2 separate regions of the Homo sapiens genome follow, and region 2 is linked to region 1. Evidence: fine-mapped expression QTL. A gene starts in region 1. The other region holds a variant in brackets. All regions are shown on one strand. Distances are between the middles of the regions.

Region 1 (8,503 bases):
GGTTATTATTATCATTATTATTAAGAGTGTCTCACTATATTGCCCAGGCTGGACTTGAACTCCTGGGCTTAAGTGACCCTTCCACACTGGCCTCCCAAAGTGCTGGGATTACAGGAATGAATCACCACACCTAGCCTGTTTTTATTTCAGTCCTTCTAAATGACTGGATCTGATCAATTATTTTTTGTGCTTAATCAAATGTCTCCATTGCTAATCTTCAAAACAAATGAAATCAATTTAATTCAGATTTCCATAATTGCTCATGCTCCTCCTTAACCTTCTGGAATAATAAAATTTCCCAATACCATTGCCCCCCGCCACCCACACCCCCCTAGTTCCCGAAAATATATGTGCTTCTTTTTGTTACAAAAAGTTTAAATTGCCTGAGGCTCTGGGAAAATTCTATCACTATGGCAATTCCAAGAAGAAACAAGGCACAGTCCTAAATGAAGATTTGTTCTGTCTCTACCACATATATGCCTTCACACAAATAGTAGGTTTCAGAAGGAGTTACTGGTGTAGAAGAAATCCACTACTATATTCAAGGCAAACTTCCTCTCAGAAAAATGAAGAAATGAGGACGCCTTGTGTATGTTGCTGCTACCTGAGAGCAAGTCTTTGAAACCAAAATCAGGAGATGGTTAAGAGTAAAAAAGAACAAATACTAATTTTTAAAATCAACTTTTGAAAAAAACAACTTTATTGAAGCATAATTTACATACCGTAAAATTCACTCATTTTGTGTATAATCCCCAGAATTTTGAAGCTTTTACCAAATTGTACAGTCATCACTGCAATGTAGTTTTAGAACACAGATTTCCATCACCTCAATAAGATTCCCTGTGCCCTTTTACAGTTAATTCCTGTTCCCAGCCCATAAACTTGGGTACCCATGAATCTACTTTCTGTCTCTATTGATTTCCCTTTTTTTGTCACATTTCTCTCTCTGAATACAGTTTTAGAAAGAAAGAAGGAAAGAAGGAAAAAGAAAGAAAGAAAGAAAGAAAGAAAGAAAGAAAGAAAGAAAGAAAAAGAAAGAAAGAAAGAAATCCAAGAGTATTTCCTACCAATAGGAGAATACAATTTACTGAGGAAGAACCCACCTGGATAAAATAGAATTCTTAAGGAAGTCCAACGATCCTGGACACCACACACGTTGGTTGAATTAGAGTCAGAGTGGTCTTTAAGATTTAATTATCTCTCCAATTAGAGATAACAGACTTAGAGTTACAAGGGACCTTGATAATTAAAGAATACTGTAGTAAGCCCTGTTATCTTAACTAAGAAACGCCTCTGTTTCTAAAGTTTAAAAAAAAAGGCAAAAAAAAAAAAAACCTTTCAAGTAAAAGAGTAAACTCCCAAGCATTCCTATAAAAATCAGTCAGATGTTATTTTTTTTCTTATGAGACAGAGATATCCTGTTTCCTTAAATAAATTAGATATCTATGGGATTGAAATATAAAAGTTTCTTCCAAAATGTAAGGTGGGCTTTCCACTTCAAGCTCCACTATGCATATGATTCTAGTGTATTTTCAGTGCAGTAAATATATCAAACTATCATGGTTTTGGTTGACCAAATACTTTTCTAATCACTTATTTCCTTCCCCCAGAATCAATGAATTTTAAGAAAGCTTTAGCTACAGGTTTATCTTGCTTACATCCGGATTTCCAGGTATCCTTCCCTCTGGAAGAAACACTCGGCTTCCCAGAAATTTACCAAGCATTTTACAAGGAGCTCTTTTATATTTGAAAAGAGAAAACTGTTTTGTCAAGTGATGAGAAATTCCAAAAAAATCCTCTAACCCAGACAGGATTCTAAATTTGGGGAAATCCATGGCACTCTTTCAATTTGGAGTGTGGGTCACAAAGATTCCTCAAGAGGTTTTTTTACACTATTTGTAGGAAACTGATATTTGCTGGGTGTTTTGCTTTGTTTTGGTTTGGTTTTAAATCCTTGCATGAATAAAAACAAATGCTAATTTTGTGTCTTTAATGTGTCAGGCATTTTATAGAACACAGAGTTCTAATTACTCCTGTGGCAATTACTGAAGGTGAAACTTTTGGAGAAAATAGGTACCTTGCCGAAATAAATATATTTTATTAGTAGCTTCTTGTGTTTTAAAGCAAATGGAACCTCTGAACTCCTAACACAAGGAGAAGGCAAAGCATTCAGTTCGGGTCTCTCTGGATCTACTGTGGAAGTGGTGGACTCCTCCTTCTGAAGATCTTTAAAAGCAATTGTGCCTGTGTTTATCTGACAAAAAGGACTGATGTGATGTGTTGCTAAATGAGAGACTTTTCAGATTCCCTTTCCACTCTGAGTTTAGAGTTCAAGGCGGGGGAATCTTAAAGGAGAACTTTCCACACTCTTGGAGTAAATAACAATTGAAATATAAAAAATCTGGCGGCGGGGGATGGAGGGGGCATTCTGTAATGGAACTTGTCAGCAAAAAGAAAATGGCAAATAAATGTGAGAAAGGGGCCGAAGGAGGGCAAGACAGTACATAGGGTGCCCCCCACCCACCCGGCTTTTAATGATTCAAGCAAAAAAATCTCTGCTTTGTGTGTAACTGGCACGGTGAACGTGGGAAAGGACACGAAGACCTTTCTCTCCCCACAGCTGGTCCAACTTTCCAATTTTCAGGTTGTTCACAGTGATTTCACTTTCAGTGGAAACGGGCGTCCCATCCCCAGGAAAGGAAGGCTTTCCTGCATGTGTAAAAAAGTAAACTGTTACTTTGTCCTTGCAAAAGAAAACTTCATTCTCTGAACTTCCCCGGGATCTGCAAAGCGCCCCGCGGAACTCCCGGTACTTAGTAGAAGCTCATTAAAGGTCTCTGTTCCCCTTTGCTCCCCGTTCGCCCGCTGGCCCTTTCTCAGAGCCAGACAGGCACAGCGCTGAGAAGGGAAGAAGTCCGAACAGGGAGCTGTGAAGACAAAATAAGGGAGTCCCGAGTCAGTACCCTTTAGTCCAAAGAAAGGGAGCGGGATGGGGGGAAAGGCAGCCCCGCCCTGGGACTGAAAAGTCTGGATTCTTAACAGCTGCAAGGTCGTGGATATTTTATGGGTTTTCTTCCTCACAAAATACACTCCTATAAGCAGAGATTCCCCCCCTCCACCCCGAAGAGAGGTGACGCAATGTCCTCAAACACTACCACCACCCCCAATAAAAAAGAAAAGGGAAGGGGGAGCGTCTTGCAACCCCTTCGCTTCACACAAGTCCAGCCACTCCCTTTCCTCCCAGCCGCTTCCCATCCCTTCCCCCATCCCCTAAAAAGTTTGATGACCGCAAAGGAAACCGAAAAAAAGTTGTCTTGCCCCAGTCCTGGCGGGCCATCAGCATCTCTTTTGTTCGCTGCGAACCCACAGTCCCCCGTGACGTCACCCGGAGCCCGGGCCAATCGGCGCGCGGTCGGCTGCGGCGGCCGGCGGGCGGGCGGGCGGGTGGGGTGGGGCGGGGCGGGGACAGCCCGGCGGGTCTCTCCTCCCCCGCGCCCCGGGCCTCCAGAGGGGCGGGAGGGGACCGTCCCATATAAGCCCCGGCTCCCGGCGCTCGGACGCCCGCGCCGGCTGTGCTGCACAGGGGGAGGAGAGGGAACCCCAGGCGCGAGCGGGAAGAGGGGACCTGCAGCCACAACTTCTCTGGTCCTCTGCATCCCTTCTGTCCCTCCACCCGTCCCCTTCCCCACCCTCTGGCCCCCACCTTCTTGGAGGCGACAACCCCCGGGAGGCATTAGAAGGGATTTTTCCCGCAGGTTGCGAAGGGAAGCAAACTTGGTGGCAACTTGCCTCCCGGTGCGGGCGTCTCTCCCCCACCGTCTCAACATGCTTAGGGGTCCGGGGCCCGGGCTGCTGCTGCTGGCCGTCCAGTGCCTGGGGACAGCGGTGCCCTCCACGGGAGCCTCGAAGAGCAAGAGGCAGGCTCAGCAAATGGTTCAGCCCCAGTCCCCGGTGGCTGTCAGTCAAAGCAAGCGTGAGTACTGACCGCGGGCTGAAACAGGCTGCCTCAGGGATGGGACCCTAAAGCCGACCAAAGTTGGGGCTGAAGTTTTGTGCGCGCGCGTGTGTGCGAGTGTGTGCGCGCTTTACTGAGAGAAACCAGCTGTGCACACAAAAGGACCGAGTTTTGAGCACGCTGGTTCTGAGGGCCTGGGATGATAAGACCGTGCATTGGAGGACGAGGACTCTGCGACTTTCCCGTGTTCTAATAAATTCTGCACGTTCAGATTGTCCTTCTAGGAATTAACCAAAACTTGCCTTTAAAGAGAAAAATGATGCATGTCTATAAATTTTCCGTCTGGGATTAGTGTGGTCCTTACTGCTACTTATTTCCTTCTGTTAAATAATTGGTCAAATATTTTCAACATGGGGGTGGAAAGGGGGTATTGAAATAGCTGTCTTGTTTCTAACTAACTTGGAAGAGATGTAATTGGTTCAGACCTCTTTAGGGCCGCTCAGGATACTTCACCAAGAACAGAGGTTGGAATTCTTTCCGTTTTTCAAAGACACACCCTCCTTTTGCTTTGAGAAAGCTGCTTAAAGTTGTCCTTTTTGACTATTACTCCAAAAGAATATTTAAGTTCCTTGCATGTTTTAAAAATGTGACTTCAATTGTCTGCCTTCCAAAATGTTTCCAACTTTTTTATGTAGACCCCTGGCCAGATGGAAATGACATCATTGTATATAACTTTTAGCAAAGTTAAAAGGAAAAAAATATGTACGTCAATATTCACATGAAGAAAATTCCATAATTTTGGGAAAAGGAGAAATGCAAATGTAACGTTTTCCTTCAATTATTTGCAGCCGGTTGTTATGACAATGGAAAACACTATCAGATAAATCAACAGTGGGAGCGGACCTACCTAGGCAATGCGTTGGTTTGTACTTGTTATGGAGGAAGCCGAGGTTTTAACTGCGAGAGTAAACCTGAAGGTAAGTGACAACAAGCCCCATAGTTAGTATCTTTTAATACATGAAGTGGTAATTGTTAAACTTTGCATTAGTAAGTAAAAATACATACACCATTTTTCTAATAGAATTACCTGTCATTTCCTCTTAAGTTTAAAAACTGCTTATATTTGCTTTTCACATGCTTTTACCTTTAAAACAAAGAAACGAATCTTTCCCAAATTAGTTCCTAGAGTCTTCTTTTTGCTTTACTCTCCCAAAGTTTTTGATGAGAAAAATGAAAGATTTTGTGTGTCCTCCGACAAAAAAAATTGCTTATAAAATTTTAATTTATTAGAAAGCAGTCTCAAATCTTAAACTGTTAGTTTATGAGCCAGAAAACACTTTGGGGACTTACATCGTAAAATGATTTGTCAGCGGCAGTTAACACAAAACCATTAGCCACTTCAAAGTTCTCATTCCTTTAGGACCAATGATATTTTTCTCATAAATTATAGCAACTCTGTCAGAGAAGCACTGATCAGGGGAAAATGGAAATCATAGGATTAACAACTGTCAAGGCCTTGTGGGAGGTGGGGATCTTCGAATTGTTTGTTTGTTTTTGTTTTGTTTTGTTTTTGAGACAGAGTCTTGCTCTGTCACCAGGCTGGAGTGCAGTAGCACTATCTCAGCTCACTGCAACCTCTGCCTCCAGGGTTCAAGCAATTCTCCTGCCTCAGCCTCCTGAGTAGCTGGGACTACAGGCACATGCCACCACACCCAGCTAATTTTCATATTTTTAGTAGAGACGGGGTTTCACCGTATTGGTCAGGGTGGTCTCGAATTCCTGACCTCAGGTGATCCACCCGCCTCAGCCTCCCAAAGTGCTGGGATTACAGGCGTGAGCCACTGTGCCCGGCCAATCGTTTGCTTTTTATGTGAACCTTGCTTTGACTTTCTGAGTCAGAGATTGGAATGTGAAACCCTTCACAAATCTAGCTCTGTCATAAGTTAGTACTTTATATGGCCTTTTCCTAAGAGCCTGAGATTTTTCTACAATATGAATAATTTACAGAAAATTTGACAATATGTCAAGGTCAAAAACCATGGCCTTATTAGAGCTTAGGATAAAAATCTGTATCTCTCACTTCATTTTATTCTTTGAGGTGTACCATGTTACTTGTGGAATAGAGAAGTGGGTTTTCCTTTAGAGGGGATTAGTGAACTAGAAAAGCTTGTACCTAAGTGAGGCTCACATGGACTTTCCTTTTCCCCTCAGCTGAAGAGACTTGCTTTGACAAGTACACTGGGAACACTTACCGAGTGGGTGACACTTATGAGCGTCCTAAAGACTCCATGATCTGGGACTGTACCTGCATCGGGGCTGGGCGAGGGAGAATAAGCTGTACCATCGCAAGTAAGGAAGAGATTGTGTAAAATGATGCCAAAATATCAAATATGAATTTCTCTGTTACCATCACTGTCATTTTCTGTTATCCATGACTGGATATTCCGAACTTTGAGGTTTGCCCCTGGTGACCAGGTACTCTTAAGTGGTCACCCAACTGGTTCCTGTGTTTCTTAAAGACGGGTATGAGCACAGATGGAATCAGTGTTTGATGTGTGTGCGTTTATGAGTGTGTGTGCATTTATGAGTGTGTGTGTTTCTGTACATAGTAGAACCAAGAGACCTCTTGGGTTCCATTTCAGTAAGACATGCTTAGGGGAGTTGCCCATTTTAAATCACCTGGATATCTTCAAGCTAGACAAATCATGAGACTTTTCTGCAGTGACTGGGAAGGTGTTCATGAAGAGTGAACCAGCCATGTGTTGTCTGGTCTTCATGTTTGCAATGCAGAGACCTCTTGCACCTCACAGAAACAGTCTGGTTTCTTGGTGACCAGTAGGTTATACCCAGGAAGCAGATGTCACTATTCCTAGGGATAATACAAAATTATTAACCCAATAGAGTTTGCTAAGGAACTTTGGGAACCGGGCTGATTCTCAACTCTAGTTTAGCTAAGGCACTCTTTCCAGTATGATTCACTGGGTTACCAATAGATTCTATTAAGATAGTATTTAAGTTTTTTAATCCATTCTTTAAATATAAGTCGTCTTAAAGACTTCTATTCAAAAGAACAAGTCCCGTGTGAATAGGCCCAATCAACTTTCCCCATATTTCATGTTAGGGTTTATCCAAGTTCACAGGCAAATCGCAAGAGGCAAGGGTCCATAGTGTTTACAATCTAGTTCAGCATTTGAATGTGCCATTGGGCTTAACAACTTAGAAAACTACCAGGATTTCCACACTTTATATGCATATGTCTGTTTGCTTTCCACCAAAATGACATTTCTATCCTAGGGTAAAATACAGGCTCTCCATGCTCCCAAAAGCTGGAGTGCTGTGCCTGATGTGGCCTTTTCACTGAATTAGTCTCAGTCTTAGCCTGCTGTGTATGAGTGAAGACCAAGCCTCCCAGCCTTTCTTTTCTGCTTAGGACCCAATTTCCTGTGATCTCTCTGGGAAAGCAGGATTCATGACCTCTTCCTTGCCATCCAGATTTCTCTGTGGTTTTCCATTGTGTTCTAAGCAAGACACTTAACTGAATTGACTCCAAGTGACCAGACCTGTTAACGTTTCCCCTGTCTCTGATGGGAAAGCTGTTGTCTGTGTCTCTACTTTAGCCAACCTAAGTACCTACCATGGGTGGAATATGAGACCAAAAAAAAAAATCTGTTCTGCCCTCTCCTAACATTTTCGTTGTATCTTCAACAGACCGCTGCCATGAAGGGGGTCAGTCCTACAAGATTGGTGACACCTGGAGGAGACCACATGAGACTGGTGGTTACATGTTAGAGTGTGTGTGTCTTGGTAATGGAAAAGGAGAATGGACCTGCAAGCCCATAGGTGTGTGAGTCTTAGGGCTGAGCAAGAGCTGGGATGCTTAGTTCTAATGTGGGGTTGGACCAGAATCACATCTACATAGGTCATAGACCTGAATTCCAGTGAAAACCAATAAAGAAATGGGAATTTTGTTTGAAATAATGAATTATTATATAATCCATAGTCTTCTTACAGGAGTTAGATCAAAAAGTACTGACTACACATAGAAGTCTTAACTTTGCTTCAAAAGCATAAGGTAGAATTGAAAGATTTAGAATGGAGTCATTTCTTTTACCTAATAGCTGATCTCAGATTCCTCCTTCGTCAAGATATAATTTATTTAAAAGAAAAAAAAATGACACTTTGGACACATTTCTATATGGAATGTCCTGGACCGAAACATGAAATAGTGTGTGCTTGTCACACTCTGCTCATTTCTTTTCAAATTAAAAGTTGTTGAGCTTCTTTGGATCTCAATCCTCAGTTGAATTTTGTAAGTACAAGCCTGAAAGTTTCTGGCTATAAATTTTACTCTGTTTACTTGTCTTCTAATTTAGAGGTTTTTGTCTTGTTTTGTATTGTTTTGCTTTCCAATATTTAAAAATAGCTTTCTTTGTCATTGTATTTAGGCCACTCAAAATTCATAATTGGTCATTTATAATTAAGATTGGAATTTTGCATATGTAGTCTCCCACAGACTAGATACATACATAGATCCTTGCTACTGGAAAT
Region 2 (16,328 bases), 70 kb before region 1:
GACAGATAGGTGGGTAGACAGATGTAAATGTGTGTATGTATGTGTGTGTGTGCACACGTACACATCATCTCCAGCTTCATTCACTGAGTGGATAACAATGACATTGTTAAGGTGGTATCTGCTGGGCTTATTTATTGTAAATTACTGCTTTCTTTCCCCTTTGCAATTAGTATGCATTTTGTTGGGCAGTACTTTGAAACTATATAAATATAATAATGAACAAACCAGCACTTAGATCTTGACTTCTAACTCCCTTTCTCCATCCAAATAAACTAAAGCTCCCTGGAGAAATGGCTGATCTTAGGGCTGGAGCAATGAAAATACAAGATGAGCTTGAAATATCTTTTTGTGCCAGAAAGTAAGGATGGAAACATGTCAAAAGAACACAGAAACCAGCTTGAAGGGGCTTTTACTGACCAAATCTGGAATGATTTATATAAATATAAATAATGATAGTATTGGGTTATAATCTACCTAATAAAATGGGAAACCATGAATCCATACTCATATAAATGCAGAAATTAATAAATGGAGAGTTTGATATGGATCAAGATGTTTATATAGTTTCAAAGTACCTCCTAACAAAATACATACTAGCTTCAAAGGAAAAAGCAGTCATTTATAGTATGTAAGCCTGGCAGACCCTACCTTAAATAAAGGATTAAAGTGAACAGCATCAGATATAAAATAAATAAAAATCATGCGCCACCTGATGCAATGCAATAAGAACACAGCATCTCTTCCATGATACTACTGCCAAAGATGTGCAAAATGAAAACCTAATCATGAGAAAACTCCAGACAAACCTTTGAGGGACATTTTACAAAATAATTGATCTGTCATCATCAAACGTGTCTAGATCGTGCAGTCAAGGAAAGACCAAGAAACTGTTCTGATTTGACATGGTCTATGGAGACATGACAATTAAATGCAACACGTGATTCTGACTTGAATTTTCTATACAGAAAATTATTGGGACAACTCGCAGAACGTCAGTGGGATCTGAGATTCAAAGCATAGTCATCAAGCAATATTAGTTTCCTAATTTTGATGGTTACCCTGCAGTTATAGAAGAGAATGCTTTTGTTGGTAAGAAATACACTGTAATGGCTGGGTGCAGTGGCTCGTGCATGTAATCCCAGCACTTTGGGAGGTCAAGTCCGGCAGATCACTTGAGGTCAGGAGTTCAAGACCAGCCTGGCCAACACGGTGAAACCCCATCTCTACTAAAAGTACAAAAACTAGCTGGGCGTGCCTGTGCTGGGTGGCAGATGCCTGTAATCCCAGCTACTTGGTAGGCCAAGGCAGGAGAATCACTTGAACTGGAGGTTGCAGTGAGCCAAGATCGGGCCACTGTACTCCAGCCTGGGTGACACAGCAAGACTCTGTTTCAAAAAAGAAGAAGAAGTACACTATAAAGTTTAGGATGGGACAGAAAATCCTGCCACCAACTTATTCCAAAATGGTGTTAAAAAAAAAAAAGAGTTCTTTGTAGTGTACTTACAATTTTTCTGTAAATTCAAGATTGATTTAAAGTCAGAAAATTTTTAAAAATTTATCTCTCATGAATTTTCATACAAAAGAAAATTTAATTTTATGAAAACTAGAACACTGATAAAATTTCAAAAATAATTTTTTAGGATGCCTTTTGACATATCCTGAATTGACTCACTTCTTTTTCACCCCTTCTGTTACTGCTTCACTCTCAGCCAGATCCTCTCACCAGTGTGTTTTGTGGACTCCTGCTGTTGAACTTGGACCTATTACCTTCACCTGTGTCCGCCTGGGACCCAGTTTCCACACAGCAACCAGAGTGATCTCTGAAAAATACAAGCCAGATCTCACAATTCTCTGCTAGTAAAACCCCTCCAGTCTCCTATAACCTAGAATAAAATCAGAACTCCTTACTGCGGCCTGAGGGTCCCTCTCTGGATGTCAGAATGGTCTCCCTGCTCTCACCTCCCAGTACTATGCCTCTCATTCACAGCCGGTGCCTCGGGCCTGGCTCACTCTGCCAGCCAACTGACTCTCTTCTCTGTACCGAGGTCTCAGTTCAAGCCCCACCTCTAAAAGGCCAGCTCTGATTTTCCAATCCAAAGTAGCTCTTTCTGCCCGTTTTCAGTCTTTGTCTTACTTAAGTTTTCTCCACAGAATTTATGAACCACTGAAATTACTATCTTTATTTGTTCATTTCCCTAAGGAGTGAGAGACTTCACTTTCCAGCTCACTGTTATATTTCAATGCCTAAAACTGAACCAGGTTCTTATGGTGAATGAATGAATGAATGAATGAATGAATGAAAAAAATGTAGGTCAAGAATACAGGTTCTGTGGGAAGGACCAAACAAATACTTTTCAGTTCAGAAAATAAAATTTAAAAACAAAACAAAGAAAATGAATAGCTGAAATTCATAATAAGTCAGAAAAGGTAATTCAAATAACTTTATAATGCAGTACTCTGACAATATATTCTCAGTAAGATATAGTCTAAAAATAAAACAAATGTAAAGAAATCTTGACCTGAGTAGGTTTTTATTGGTAATGATATTGGTGTTGTTTAACAAACTATTTTGTGTATAATAAAGCAATTAATATATAGATTTACATTATAGGAAAAGGAAGTTACAAATATGAAATGAGAGGAGGTGAAAAAAGCCCTGTGACATCATATAAACTTATAATTTAATGTGATAGAAATAATAACACTCATGAATTTATATTTCTGTTTCTATTCGTATGTATTTTAGGCCCTTTCAAAAGGCCTAAAAGCAATAACAGCCCTAACTGTACACTCCAAAATGGTTAAGGCAGTAAATTCTATGTTGTGTTTTTTTACCATAATAAATAAGTAGGAAAACAAAATAAATCAAAACAATGAAAATCCTTTTTCAGTGAATACACTAGTGCCCAGACCTTTAGTTTCTAAATATCATTCCTGATTAAAAGGCACCGAAGCTTTTTGAGAAATGAATGATTCCAGGTCAAAGGCAGGAAAAGTACAAAAAAATTATTGAGAAAAAAAAAAGTAAAGAAATGCTCAAACACTAAAGAATATGTTTTAAATGAATACAGAGGCTGGCTTGGAAGTTTTCACTGGGTAAATTTGGTGCAATTTGAACATCAAAGAAAGAGGAAAAAGGTACCTTCATAATAGAGAGATCCTGTGGTCAGCCAGACAAGTTGAGATTGTCTTTTAATAGGAAATCATGAGAATTGCCCATCATTTTTGTAGCATTCTTGATAAAAAAAAAAAAGTTTAACTGAATCTGATCATAAGGAAACAACCAGGCAAATCTAGCTTGTATGATATTCTAAGAACACTGACCTCATTTCTTCAAAAATATCAATGTCACAAATAACAGAAAAAAAAGGTAGGAGGACTTTTCTAGATTACAGGAACTAAAGCAATATGCCAAATGCAATGTCTGTCCCTTGATAGAAGAATATAAGTGTTCTTAAAGATACAGTTTGTCTAAAATGTACTTTCAAATTGTTTTAGACACACACACATACACATAGGGATACACATATACCTAAATAGAAAGATAACATGACAAAATATTAACATTCAGTGAATTTAGGCAAAGGATGAGCAGGAGCTCATTGTACTATTCTTTTCTTTTTTTATTATTATACTGAAGTTCTGGGATACATGTGCAGAACGTGCAGGTTTGTTACATAGGTATACATGTGCCATGGAGGTTTGCTGCACCTATCAACCCATTATCTACATTAGGTATTTCTCCTAATGCTATCCCTCCCCTTGCCTTCCACCCCACTTGACAGGCCCCAGTGTGTGATGTTCCCCTCCCTGTGCCCATATGTTCTAATTGTTCAACTCCCACTTATGAGTGAGAACATCTGGTGTTTGATTTTCTGTTCCTGTGTTAGTTTGCTGAGAATGATGGTTTCCAGCTTCATCCATGTTCCTGCAAAGAATATGAACTCATTCTTTTTTATGGCTGCATAGTATTCCATGGTGTATATGTGCCAAATTTTCTTTACCCAGTCTATCATTGATGGGCACTTGGGTTGATTCTGAGTCTTTGCTATTGTGAATAGTACTGCAATAAACATGCATGTGCATGTATCTTTATTGCTTCACTCTTACATACATTGTACTATTCTTTCAAAAAAAATTTTTTTTTTTTTTTGAGATGGAGTCTTGCTCTGCCACCCAGGTTGGAGTACAGTGGCACGATCTCAGCTCACTGCAACCTCCACCTCCCAGGTTCAAGCAATTCTCCTGCCTCAGCCTCCCAAGGAGCCGGGATTACAGGTGCCTACCACCAGGCACAGCTAATTCTACGGGTTTAAAATAACAGATTCTCCTCAACTTATGATGGGGTTACATCCTGATAAATCCATCGGAAGTTGAAAAAATCCTAAGTCAAAAATCCATTTAATACACCTAACCTACCAAAACACCATAGCTTAGCCTAGTCTACCTTAAACATACTCAGAACAACTATGTTATTAGCCTACAGTTGGGCAAAATCATCTAACACAAAGCCTATTTCATAATAAGGTGTTGAATATCTTATGTAATTTATTGAATGCTATACTGAAAGTGAAAAACAGAATGGTTATACGAGTACTTGATGTACAGTTTCTACCAAATGCTTTCGTACCATTGTAAAGTCAAAAAATCATTAAGTTGAACCATCATAGGTCGTGAACCACCTGTGGCTGGAGTAGAGACAGGTAACATCAACAAAAGACTGCAGACTCTGGAGTCAGACTGCCTGGGTTCAATTTCAGGCTCTAAATTCCAGCTATGCGATCAACATTTCTTGATCTGCTTGCTTATCTGGGAAAGGAAGGTAATAACAAACCTGTCTCACAGAATTTTTCCTAAGGATTAAATGCAAAAATTCATGTTAAACACACAGCACAGTTGTTTGGCATGTACAGTAAATACTCAATAAATGTTATGCTGATTATTATTATTACACTAGAACCTGTGTTAGCTCTTCACAGAATAAGACTTCTAGCTGATAATTAGATGGTACACATTTGTAAAAAACATATATTTTAAAATTTCTGTTTCTTCTTTTTTATATCAGTTTAAGATAATTTGCACCTGCATGAAAAAAGCAAATTACAAATCTTTATTTCAGAAACCCTAGTTTTGTTCTTTTTTGTAAATTGACTCTACTTTTCCAACCAGGAAAATGACAGAACTGTTAGCGCATTTAACCACATATGACTGACCCATAATAGTTGTACAAGAAATGTGAAAGAATGAAAGAATAAAATAATGAGTAAATGAATAAACTGGTCCTGGAAGTCAGGCTACCAGACTACACTCCCGAAATCTGCAGGAGTTATGAGCCTCTGCTTTGCTTTCTAGATATCTGTGTCAGCTGCCTCTCCCATGTGATGGCCAGATTTGGGGCTAATGTAGACTCTTTTGTATCCTCCATATTCCAGCCCTATACCCTAATTTCAGAGTTGCTTGTCTACTTTTTCTGTGGGCTCTGAATGGTTGTTTTAATCTATATTCAGGCAGAGTAACAGGCATGAGGAATGTATGACGTAAAAGGTGCCAAAATCAACCACTATGCAAAAAAAACTTCTCTTCCAGCAGCCTGGGTGGGGGCTTCTAGCTGGAGAATATTCAGTTGTGTGAGGGCATCTTAGTAGACCACCAGTGGTATCTGGAAGAAGGAGCCCCCAAAAGCCTCTATCACTCATTAGCAGGTTTACACAATTCATTGAACAGATTGAATAGTTTAACAGATTACTCCATTAATTAGATTTTGGGAGAACAGGGCAGTTATGTGTTGGCAGAGCAAACAGAGAAAATCAAATTCTGGAGTGTGGAACGTTTACCCAAAAGAAATGCAGCTCTGGCAGCCAGATCAAAAGGTAGGGCTCTGAGCAACAAGAAGACCACGCAGCTGAGTGGGAGGAACTGATGGAAAGAGAGATGTGGGTGCAAAACACAAGCCTCTCACCCTCTTTATCCTAGAGCTGGTCATGCGTATTTCAGGAGAGCACACAGATCAAAGGCCTCTCACCTCCTCTTGTTCTTATTTCACATGCCATATCAAAATGTTTTTTCAAACACTCTGATGGGGAAGTTAATTTAAAAAAAAAAAAGAGTTAAAAGTATGCAATGAAGATTTTCCTTCTTTCCTTCTCAAAGTCTCCACAGTCTTTTGAGTAATGCATGCAATTGCCTAAACCAAAATCTTTTGCCATTCACCAGATGGATGCAAGAAACTGACTTATGAAAAGGCTGACAGATGACCACTGAGTATAAAGCACCCTGACACCAAAGTGATCAAAGTCAAGAAAATAGAAAGACATTTTCACTGAAAGGGAGAAAAATCTGCACCAAAAACACATGTGGCTGAATCACATCCAATGGACAGCCTCTGCAGATTTTATTCTTTGACTTTAAAAATATTCAGTGTTTGTAATTTTTTAAAGTTTGCTTTATCATAGAATTCTTTAATATTCAATCTAGAAATCAGCCAAACTAGAGTGCTTAGTAATTTACTACAAGGAAAGACCAAAGACTTTTTGAGAGTAACAAAAAAAGAAAAAGAGGAACTTCCTACAACTGGATATTCTTAAAGACAGCTCACTTCCTGCAAACTCAATGAAAGGGCACTATACCAATATACTAATGCAATTGCAGGTATGATTTATATTTAACTTCATAACTTTTGCAAATCTAAGGAACTGGAAATATAGGCAATATAAAAGAGTAGAGAAGCTAAACATTAGGCTGCAATACATTTTTTGTTTTATACTTGATGTTAGTGAAGTAGACAGTCAATAATACACAAGAATTCAAAACCAATCAAAATGTGAGCAGGAAGGGTGCATACCTGGAAAACACCTGTTTAGGATCAGACAGAAATAAATACAAATTCTTTTTTTTTTTTTTTTTTTTTTGCCACAACTGGCTACACAGCAAGTTACTGTGTATCTCTGAGCCTTAGCTTCCACAACTATAAATGGGAATTGTACAACTTCATTCTCAAATTCAAGAGATAACATATATTAATCAGCAGGTTGAGTCTATGAGTGAGTAACACATGTTCACTATTATTCCAAAAAGAGTCACCCTGGCCCATTCCTTTGACCCTGTGCTTGAATCAACATACCTGTTCCATAATAAGGTGAGCAGCATCTGGCCTTGGAGTTTCACAGACCCACAGCCTTACCACACTCTCTCTCTTTCATCTCACTTTCTATCATATTCACAACCTATTTTAGTATATCAGTGACACATAAGAACTAAGGATATAATAATCATGAAGGGTTTTAAGTTTAAAATACTAACAAATTTTATTTTCAGAAACAGAGTTTAAAGAAGAGGCAAACAATTCATTGCTGCTTTCTTTTTCCTACCTGCATTCTGTCGGACTTGAGCTACATTAAAAATCCAGCTGTAGGCATCAGAAATCAAAAACATTTTTACACAAAGGCACCCCCTTCAGGCTCCTAGTTCCTGCTACTGCCATTTCTTTTGGGTAAACATTCCACACTCCAGAATTTGATTTTCTCTCTTTGCTCTGCCAACACTCTGCACTGTTTTCTCAAAATCTAGTTAACAGAGTAATCTGTAACTATTAAATCTGTTCGATGAATTGTGTAAACCTGCTGATGAGGGATAGAGGCTTTTGGGGGCACCTTCTTCCAGATACCACTGGTGCTCTACTAAGATGCCTTAACACAACTGAATATTCTCCAGCTAGAGGCCCTACCAGGCTGCTCGAAGAGAAGTTTTTTTTTTTGCCTAGTGAGCGTTTCTGGCTTTTTTTTTTTTTTTTTTTTTTTGAAGCGGAGTCTCACTCTGTCGCCCAGGCTGGAGTGCAGTGGCGTGATCTCGGCTCACTGCAACCTCCGCCTCCCGGGTTCACGCCATTCTCCTGCCTCAGCCTCCCGAGTAGCTGGGACTACAGGCGCCCGCCACCACGCCCGGCTAATTTTTTGTATCTTTAGTAGAGGCGGGGTTTCACCGTGTTAGCCAGGATGGTCTCGATCTCCTGACTTCGTGATCCTCCCGCCTCAGCCTCCCAAAGTGTACCTTTTACATTATAAATTCATCACGCCTGTTACTCTGCCTGAATATAGATTAAAAGAACCATTCAGAGCCCACAGAAAAAGTAAAAGTAAAAAGAAGCAAGGTTTGCTGACTCAGGGAGAGTCTGAAAGGCACTTTGGACTTGGCCCTATCTCCCTTCCCACCTCTTTGTCCTTATCTACTCCCCACCTCCTCCTGAAAGCTGCCAGATTGTGACTGTATTTTTGACCCTAGTTCTTCTGAAATTCTTGTGCAATGAGTTTATTACTTTCTTCTGCTCTTGCAGTTTCCTCTCATATTCTTTCAAAACGTTTTCTTATGAA[A/G]TTGTCTTATTCACCCGATTGTAGCCAGCCTACCCTTCTAGAACAGAGGACTCCCATTCTTTCCTGTTCTGTATTTTATCTAAAGCCAATTCCAATTCAGAACCACCTCTATTTCTAAATTTTGATTATACATTAATACGTCTTGTAACATTCCCCATTTGGCTCCTCCAACCCATTTTTTTCTTCCATTAATTGATACAGATCTGAATTCAGAAGTGGTCTTCTAGTGGACTTTCCATAAGTACAAAATATTTATTCCAGCCACAGAGGTTTGCATAACTTTACATCTTGCCTTTGGTATTTATGTCCTCTGTTGGTGAGAAAGTCTGAAAATTTCCCAATGTTCTTGTGAGTTAAGGACACCTCAAGAGCTATTTCAATAAGGTGATTTTCCTACTCCACGTTTGTTTAACATCATGCATGCAATCTAGTATCCTATTTAAGAAGATATTGTCTGTGGATGAGATAGAAGGCAGGGAACAAATTGACTTACTAAATCTTTAGGCAGTAAATAAAGACTTCTTCTCTGAGCTCTTTACCACAAACACAAATAACCCTAAACCCTCATATCCATGTTAATAAATCCAAAACTCCCCTTCTGTCCAACACAGACGATGCCTGTCTTTTCCTAGCCCTTGGAAACAACTATTTAATTACCTGTGTAATTCTCACCAAGTTATTACCCTTTGCCTTATCAGAAAATGTTTTCTGCTCTGTCATTTGGTTTAGTCAGTGTGTTTTTCTTGGAAAGTTTCTGTTTCTGTGTCTCCTGTACCCCCAGAAGACTCACTCTTGGAGTCAGCACATGACATTTTTTTCCAAGTGCAGAGGAAGGGCTCTGTGGCCCCTGCAGAAGAACCACAGCTGTGGCTCTGTGACTTACAGGTGGCGAAGAACTTGAAGGGAGAACAGCCAGGTCCCACTGGCTATTCTGGGATGTTTGAATGACTCAATAACCATTATTCATTAAAAAGTAGGTTCCTGCTGCACTTCTGTCCAGAGAAATCCACAAGGTGCCCATGTGAGAGGTAATTTGGATACAAATCATACCTGCTTTGCAAAGCACCTACCCTTATGGCTTTCAATTTAAGGACCTATTGGAAACCAATGTTCCATTTTGTTCCATCTATGGGCATATTACTGAATATGACAGGCCTCTCCTAAATGACGTTTATTCATACCCCTTGTTCAACCCTACTTTCAGCTCCTGTATGATGACTGCCTACTTCTTTGAGGCTTCCCAGGATCTCCTAAAGTGATTCTTATCATATGCCACATAACCCAAATTCTAAATCAGATCTTCCTAAACAATACTTTCCAAATTTTGTGGAAGTCTATCTAAGAATTTTCATGATACCCACAAATAGGAAACTAATTTTATTTAAAAGCAAAAGTTTGTGGGTCTAAAGGTGTTTTTCTAGTGGCATGGCCTCCTCCATAGGAAAGGGAAGGGAACAGACCTTTAATCCACCAGATACAGCACTACCTGCTTTCTATAATTATCCCTGCATTTTCTCACAGAAACTTTATGGATTATATTGTTAGTCCCATTTTGCAAATAAGAAATGAAGGCTCAGAGAAATTAACTAGATCGAGTGTCTGGGCTCAGATTTCACCTGGTTCTAATGCTGATGCTGCCTCCATGAGATATGCTCCTTTCAAGGAAGGTGTTTCCCCATCCTTTGGAACAACTCCGTCTAGAACAGAAAAAGAGAAAGGTAAATGAATTCATCCTAAATTGGGAGGGAGGGCAAAGCTGTCATCCTCCCAAGCTCAAGAGAAATAATGTAGTAATAAATAGTTTTTAGTGCAAATAAAAATAGATTGTAAAGTACAAACAAGTTAATGATTCTGTTTAAATAATAGAATAGAATGTGAGCACCAAACACACAAACATTTATCACAGTCACTTTTTTATGAGAGCTATACAAAGAATTTTTTAAATGATCATTATGCACATCTGCTCCACATCTGTAGCCTCTCTGTCTGCAACTTTATGGCTAGTGGCAACAGTGAAATTACACCATCCCTCTTCACTGTAAGGCAAATCTAAGAGGCCTCCCCACTGACCATAATATTAGGGAACACAATGAAGGGAAAATAAGTGTCTGGGCATGGCATGGGGGCCTAGGGCAGTCTGTGGAAGACAAAGTTGTGAAGCCGGAGAGAAAGTACCTATCATTTCAGTTGGCTGAGGCATCCTAGGTAACAGAGCTACAGACATACTCTAGGATAAATAAATGTATAGATTGTGATGTTAAGATTCCTGGTCAGAAGGCCCTTCCACCTGCGTAAACTATTCTACTGTAATTGATCTGTTCCGTGGTCATTTTTGTTTTGTTTTGTTTTGCTTTGTTTTTTTGAGACAGTCTCACTCTGTCCCCTAGGCTGGAGTGCAGTGGTGCCATCTCAGCTCATTGCAACCTCCGCCTCCTGGGTTCAAGCAATTCTCCTGCCTCAGCCTCCCGAGTAGCTGGGATTACAGGTGTGCACCACCACACCTGGCTAATTTTTGTATTTTTAGTAGAGACAGCGGTTCACCATGTTGGCCTGTCTGGTTTCAAACTCCTGACCTCAGGTGATCCACATGCCTCCCAAAGTGCTGGGATTACAGGTGTGAGCCACTGCACCTGGCCTATTTTTGTTATTATTGCTGTTTTTTTACTTTACTCTCCCAAATATGAGATGATAATTACTACTGTGTGTGTTCAGATTGAACAGTGAGTTAAAGAATAATCAGGCCACATAATTAGATGTGGACTCAACCCAAAGAATATGGTAAAATACTTCTTTGCTATTTCTCTATGACTGTTAAATCTATATTATACATTTCACATGAAAGACATAAATGTATATTTGCAAATCAATATAAAATATGCCCTACGTGGTAGGCAAAATAATGGCCCCAAAAGATGTCGGTATCCTAATGCTCAGAACCTATGACTATGTTAGGTTACTTGGCAAAAGTAAATGGTAGTTACAGATGGAATTAATGTTGCTCATTAGCTGACCTAAAGATGAGATTTTCCAGTTGGGCCCAATGTAATCAGAAGGGTCTTTATAAGAGAAAAAGAAAGGCAGAAAAGGAAGAGTTAAAGTAATGCTATGTGAGAAGGACTTAACTGACAATTGCTGGTTTTGAAGATGGAGGAGACCATGAAATTCAGGCAGCCTTTACAAGCCAGAAAAGGCAAGAAAAGAGATTCTCCCTAGAGCCTCCAGAAGGTAACACATTGCTGTTGACACCTTGATTTTAGCCCACTGAGACACATTTCAGACTTCTGACCTCCAAAACTATAAGATAATAAGTTGGTGGTGGTGTAAGCAACTAGGTTTGTGGTCATTTGTTACAGCAGTCACAGGAAATTAATATACTCAGTATTCTGTAGCAAAATGTTAGTATAAAATTATGAATAAATTGACTAATAAAAATGCTTACATTTTAGACACTGACAAAAATATCACTAATTCCCAAAGGAAGTTTAAGTGCATTTAAGCTCCAGTAAAGTTATTGTTTGTTTGTTTGTATGTTTGTTTTAAGGGAGAGAGGTAGGGGTAAGTAAAGTGGGAATGCAGAGTGTTAATAAATGTTGAATGATGGGTGATAAGAGTTCATTACACCATCCTATCTGCTTTTCTGAATGTTTGAAAATGTCCACAATAAAGTTTTAAAACATTTTTCATTCCCCCCAATTAAATAACTTTCAAAAGTGAGCATCTAAGCAAAACCACTATATTAAATAAACACTGTATGTCTTTTTGTTTGTTTTTTTTTTTTGTGAGATGGAGTCTCGCTCTGTCACGAGGCTGGAGTGCAGTGGTGCAATCTCGGCTCACTGCAAGCTCCGCCTCCCAGGTTCACGCCATTCTCCTGCTTCAGCCTCCCAAGTAGCTAGGACCACAGGTGCAGGCCACCACGCCCAGCTAATTATTGTATTTTTAGTACAGACGGGGTTTCACCATGTTGGCCAGGATAGTCTCGATTTCCTGACCTTGTGATCCACCTGCCTTGGCCTCCCAAAGTGTTGGGATTACAGGTGTGAGCCTGTGTGGTATGTCTTTTTTCTAAAATAAAATGTGAAAGACAAAAATCTAAACCTTTCTTTTTATGACTTAATCTGAAAGCCTGTGGTATTAATATATTTCCACCAGAAATTATTAAACCATGTTTTCATAGCAGATGATTTGCTGCCAAAATTTTAAAAGCAAAGCTGTTTGTGCCTACTCATAGAGAATTATGTGTATATTTGTAGTTCTACTCAGCACAAAGAAATGCTTCTAGTGATAAGAGTGGAACTGAAAACAGAATACAATGCATTTGTATGATTAAAAACCAAAACATAAATATAGCCCTGCATCATGGAAAACACATAATGCTATTTTTGATAAGTGCAATATTTAATCTCATTTTTGCTAACATTAGGTGAAAATTGATTTTCCCCCTAAAATGTGATGTGTTCTATTAGAGCTTAAAATGCAGATGAATCATGAGACTATGTTTCTATGATCCTAGCACTACAAAAAGTAGAAATTTGCCAAAGAATTCAATGAGTTTTATTTCTTCATTGAGGTAACCAAATAACCAACATCACCAGTGACTATAGAGTAGATAGACATTCAAATTGTTTTATTATTGAATTGATCAGCTTATTTTACAACCTGGGAACATGAGGAATATTTAAAGTATATTGGTTCACACAAGGAGTTTTGCATAGCAGCATATCTACTTGGGGATCACTAGAAGAATAAACTTAGTTGGAAGAAAGAAAGAAGGAAAGAAAGGAAGGAAGGAAGGAAGGAAAAGGGAGAGAAAGAAAAAGAAAGACAGAGAAAAAAGGAAGGAAGAGGAAGGAAGAGAGACAGAAAGAGAAAGAAAGCAAGAAAGAGAAAAAGAAAGAAAAGAAAGAGCTCTGGGGTTTTTCTCTTTTTTTAAAAAATAAAATTCTAACTGAGGTTCTTAGGTGGCCATATAACTTAGCATACATATATCTATTGTATATTGTATTATTATACATAGTATCTATTGTATATTTTACACACACACACACACACACACACACACTTGATTTTACCTTTCCTTATGTCAATTAGCAGCAGTGTTTTTTTAAGAAATCAGAGTATCACACTAAAATGTTTACTCCTAAAGTCACTATGGAAACCACATCTCCTGTCTTGGTTTCACTTATTTAACGGAAAGTAAATTATAGATTCTATGAATCTTGGGCCATTATCTACACTTATTTCTTTAAAATACATTTTTGTTCTTATAGACTTATAAATCATGATGCATTAAGAACTATGACATAAGTATTATCTTCCAATCCTCAGAAAATATGAGACCAAAAAACTATCCAATATTTAAGTAATTCCAGAAAAGTTTTTACAAAGCCAATGGTTACCAGTTTATCTTTTTAACACTACCACCACCACAAGCAACAAGTTTTCCTTATATGTGATATATGCAGTGTGAGCACTTGACCTCTGATGTTCTTTGATAGAGAAGGAAAACACTTGGCAATCATCATGTATATTATGTAACTTCAAAAATGGGAAGACTGTTACCAGGTTACTTCTCTTCTCCAAGAAAAGCAATTCCAATTTCTTTAACTCTTTCTTATAAGTTCCATTTTCCAACCCTCTCATCAACATTCACAGTCTCTTCTGAATCTTTCCCAAATGTTAGAGTTCTCTTAAGATGTGGAGCTCCAAGCTGGAAAGTACATTCTTGTAAAAATTTGACCAGTGCTGAGTAAGAGCAAGTACCATCTATTTATCCATCTGTCTATTTAAAGTTAAGTGATCATGGAGGGTCTCCCAGCATAGACCATAGATGTTAGGTGTATTTTGGTGCAGCATGAACATCAAAAAGGGGAAAGCATGTCTGTTTTTGCCTTAAGCTCTTGGTTTCAGCAAGACCACACCTAAAAGAGTCCTTAAGACATATCTACAGCCAAATAACAGACAATGTCTTTTCTAAATCAAAGATAAATAAACACTCTGCCGACTCTGAATCATTATCTTTGAGACCTCTTGTTTTCACACAGTTAAATGTTACCAAATTCCACCGGCATGTGTGGGTGTCATCTTTTGGCAGTCTTAAAATATGGAACATTTCTTTATGAAAACATACCAGTTTTATGTTTTGTTTCATGAAAGAAGCCAAGTTGTCTAACTACACCTAGTGAAATATTTCATATTCTTAGGTAGAAACCCTATTCCATTTCTTCTTAAAATTTCCTACCCATTGCTCAGATTCTCACCCCCTTTGAATTGTCTTTTCATTCACTTTATTCTTTCCTTTGTATCTCTTTATTTTCTCTATTATGTTTCTTTCCCTCTCATACATTCTATGTAATTCAGACATACATAAACTATAAATAGAATAGAAAAGAACTTAGTAAAAATGTAGAAGTGAGCTTGGGCAAGAGGAGATTTAATTAAGGATTGAAGCATCACCCCTGTTCACATCTGAGAACATCAAATAGGAACAGTGGTATTAGGTGCATGTAACTTCCAACTTGTGAAGCAATCGAGAAGAAAGGAAATAAAGTTATTGAATGATCAAAAACATGTCATATCACCTCAGACTCAAACTTTCAACAGTTCAAAATTTGAAGAGCTTTTTTTTCCAAGATGAGTTGTGAGTTGTATTTCATCAAAAATAAAGTTTGGAATAAAGCAATCCATTTTTTTAAAGCCTGAGAGAAAAAAAATCTAGACTCTCTACTTCAAAAAGAAGCTATATTTATCAGTGTGGCTAAATCACGAATGAAGCCCAAGAGTTAGAGGAATGGAGCGAGTCAGCCTCACATCGACAAGCAGCAGAAGGCAGGCACATTCACAGCCAACCTGCTTGGCAAATTGGCGTTTGAAAATGCGATGTTTCCAATGTAGGAAGTCTGCAGGCGGAGTGTATGTGGTGTTATCAGACAAAAATCTCTGTGTACCTGGACTTGGCGTCCACATCTTCTCAAACCCCAGGCTTCACACTGAGTTACGTCAACATGTGACTCAGAAGAAGCAGAAAGGGAAAAACAGGGCACAAAGAAGGCAACATAGGGGAGAAAAGAGCAAATAAAAACACAGGCCAAAGTAAGCCAGCCTAGTTGTGAAGAGAACTGTGAATACTTTTTTATTTTTTTTAACCAAAGGTAAAAAGGAAAGCTGAGTTTACATTTTCTAATGACTGGAGCTGTCGTCTCAAGAGAATACAGAGAAAATAAGAAAATGCATAATTTTTTTTTGGACAGAATCTCACTTTGTCACCCAGACTGGAGTGCAATGGCATGATTTCAGCTCACTGCAGCCTCTTACTCCCAGGCTCCAGCGATTCTCATGCCTCAGCCTCCTACATAGCTAGGACTACAGGTGTGAGCCACCACACCTGGCTAATTTTTGTATTTTTAGTAGAGACAGGGTTTCATCATGTTGGCCAGGCTGGTCTTGAACTCCTGACCTCAAATGACCCACCTGATTCTAAAGGAGGATTAATATTGCCCTTTAACCTAAAACATTGCTAAAAGAAAAAAAAAAAAAAGTGCCAGTTATTCCTATCCCAGTCTCTCAGCTCCAACAGGGACTCGTGTTAGTCTTCCTGAACAGTTTATAAATCTATCTCTCACATTGTTATTAGAAAATGATGCTATGAGCAGATCAGAGACTTTTTTGGAGTAAATGATTGGATATTGGTCTCCCACATAACTTGAATCTCACTGAGAAGCAGTATTGGGGAAATTCAGCCAGATATCGGGCAAAATTCACCCCCGATATTTCACGTACGTTCTTTGCTATTTTCCCTAAGCATCAGCCGGTTTGAGAAATAAAGGGACAGAGTACAAAAGAGAGAAATTTTAAAGCTGGGCGTCCAGGGGAGATATGACATGTCGGTAGGTTCCGTGATGCCCCACAAGATGCAAAACCAGCAAGTTTTTATTAGTGATTTCAAAAGGGTAGGGAGTGTAC

What was found. PIP is the estimated chance that this variant, and not a neighbour inherited with it, causes the effect. A credible set is the group of variants that fine-mapping cannot tell apart.
Region 2: its variant is the best candidate, but not a certain one, in a credible set for the expression of FN1 in blood mononuclear cells (TOPMed, PIP 0.62).

The regions. Positions count from the first base shown.
Region 1 is chr2:215,431,125-215,439,627 of GRCh38, reverse strand. FN1 (fibronectin 1) reads left to right here and starts at 3,560. Exons shown (of 46, transcript NM_212482.4): 1 at 3,560-3,973; 2 at 4,804-4,932; 3 at 6,167-6,304; 4 at 7,664-7,795. The coding sequence starts at 3,826. FN1-DT (FN1 divergent transcript) reads right to left here and starts at 3,937. Exons shown (of 2, transcript NR_187198.1): 1 at 3,319-3,937; 2 at 683-2,709. RefSeq lists silencers at 3,377-3,466, 3,477-3,536 and an enhancer at 5,049-6,248.
Region 2 is chr2:215,497,594-215,513,921 of GRCh38, reverse strand. No RefSeq gene overlaps it. Among named protein-coding and RNA genes, the nearest start is that of FN1, 70 kb to the right of the region's middle. The variant A/G (reference allele first, on the strand shown) is at 8,367.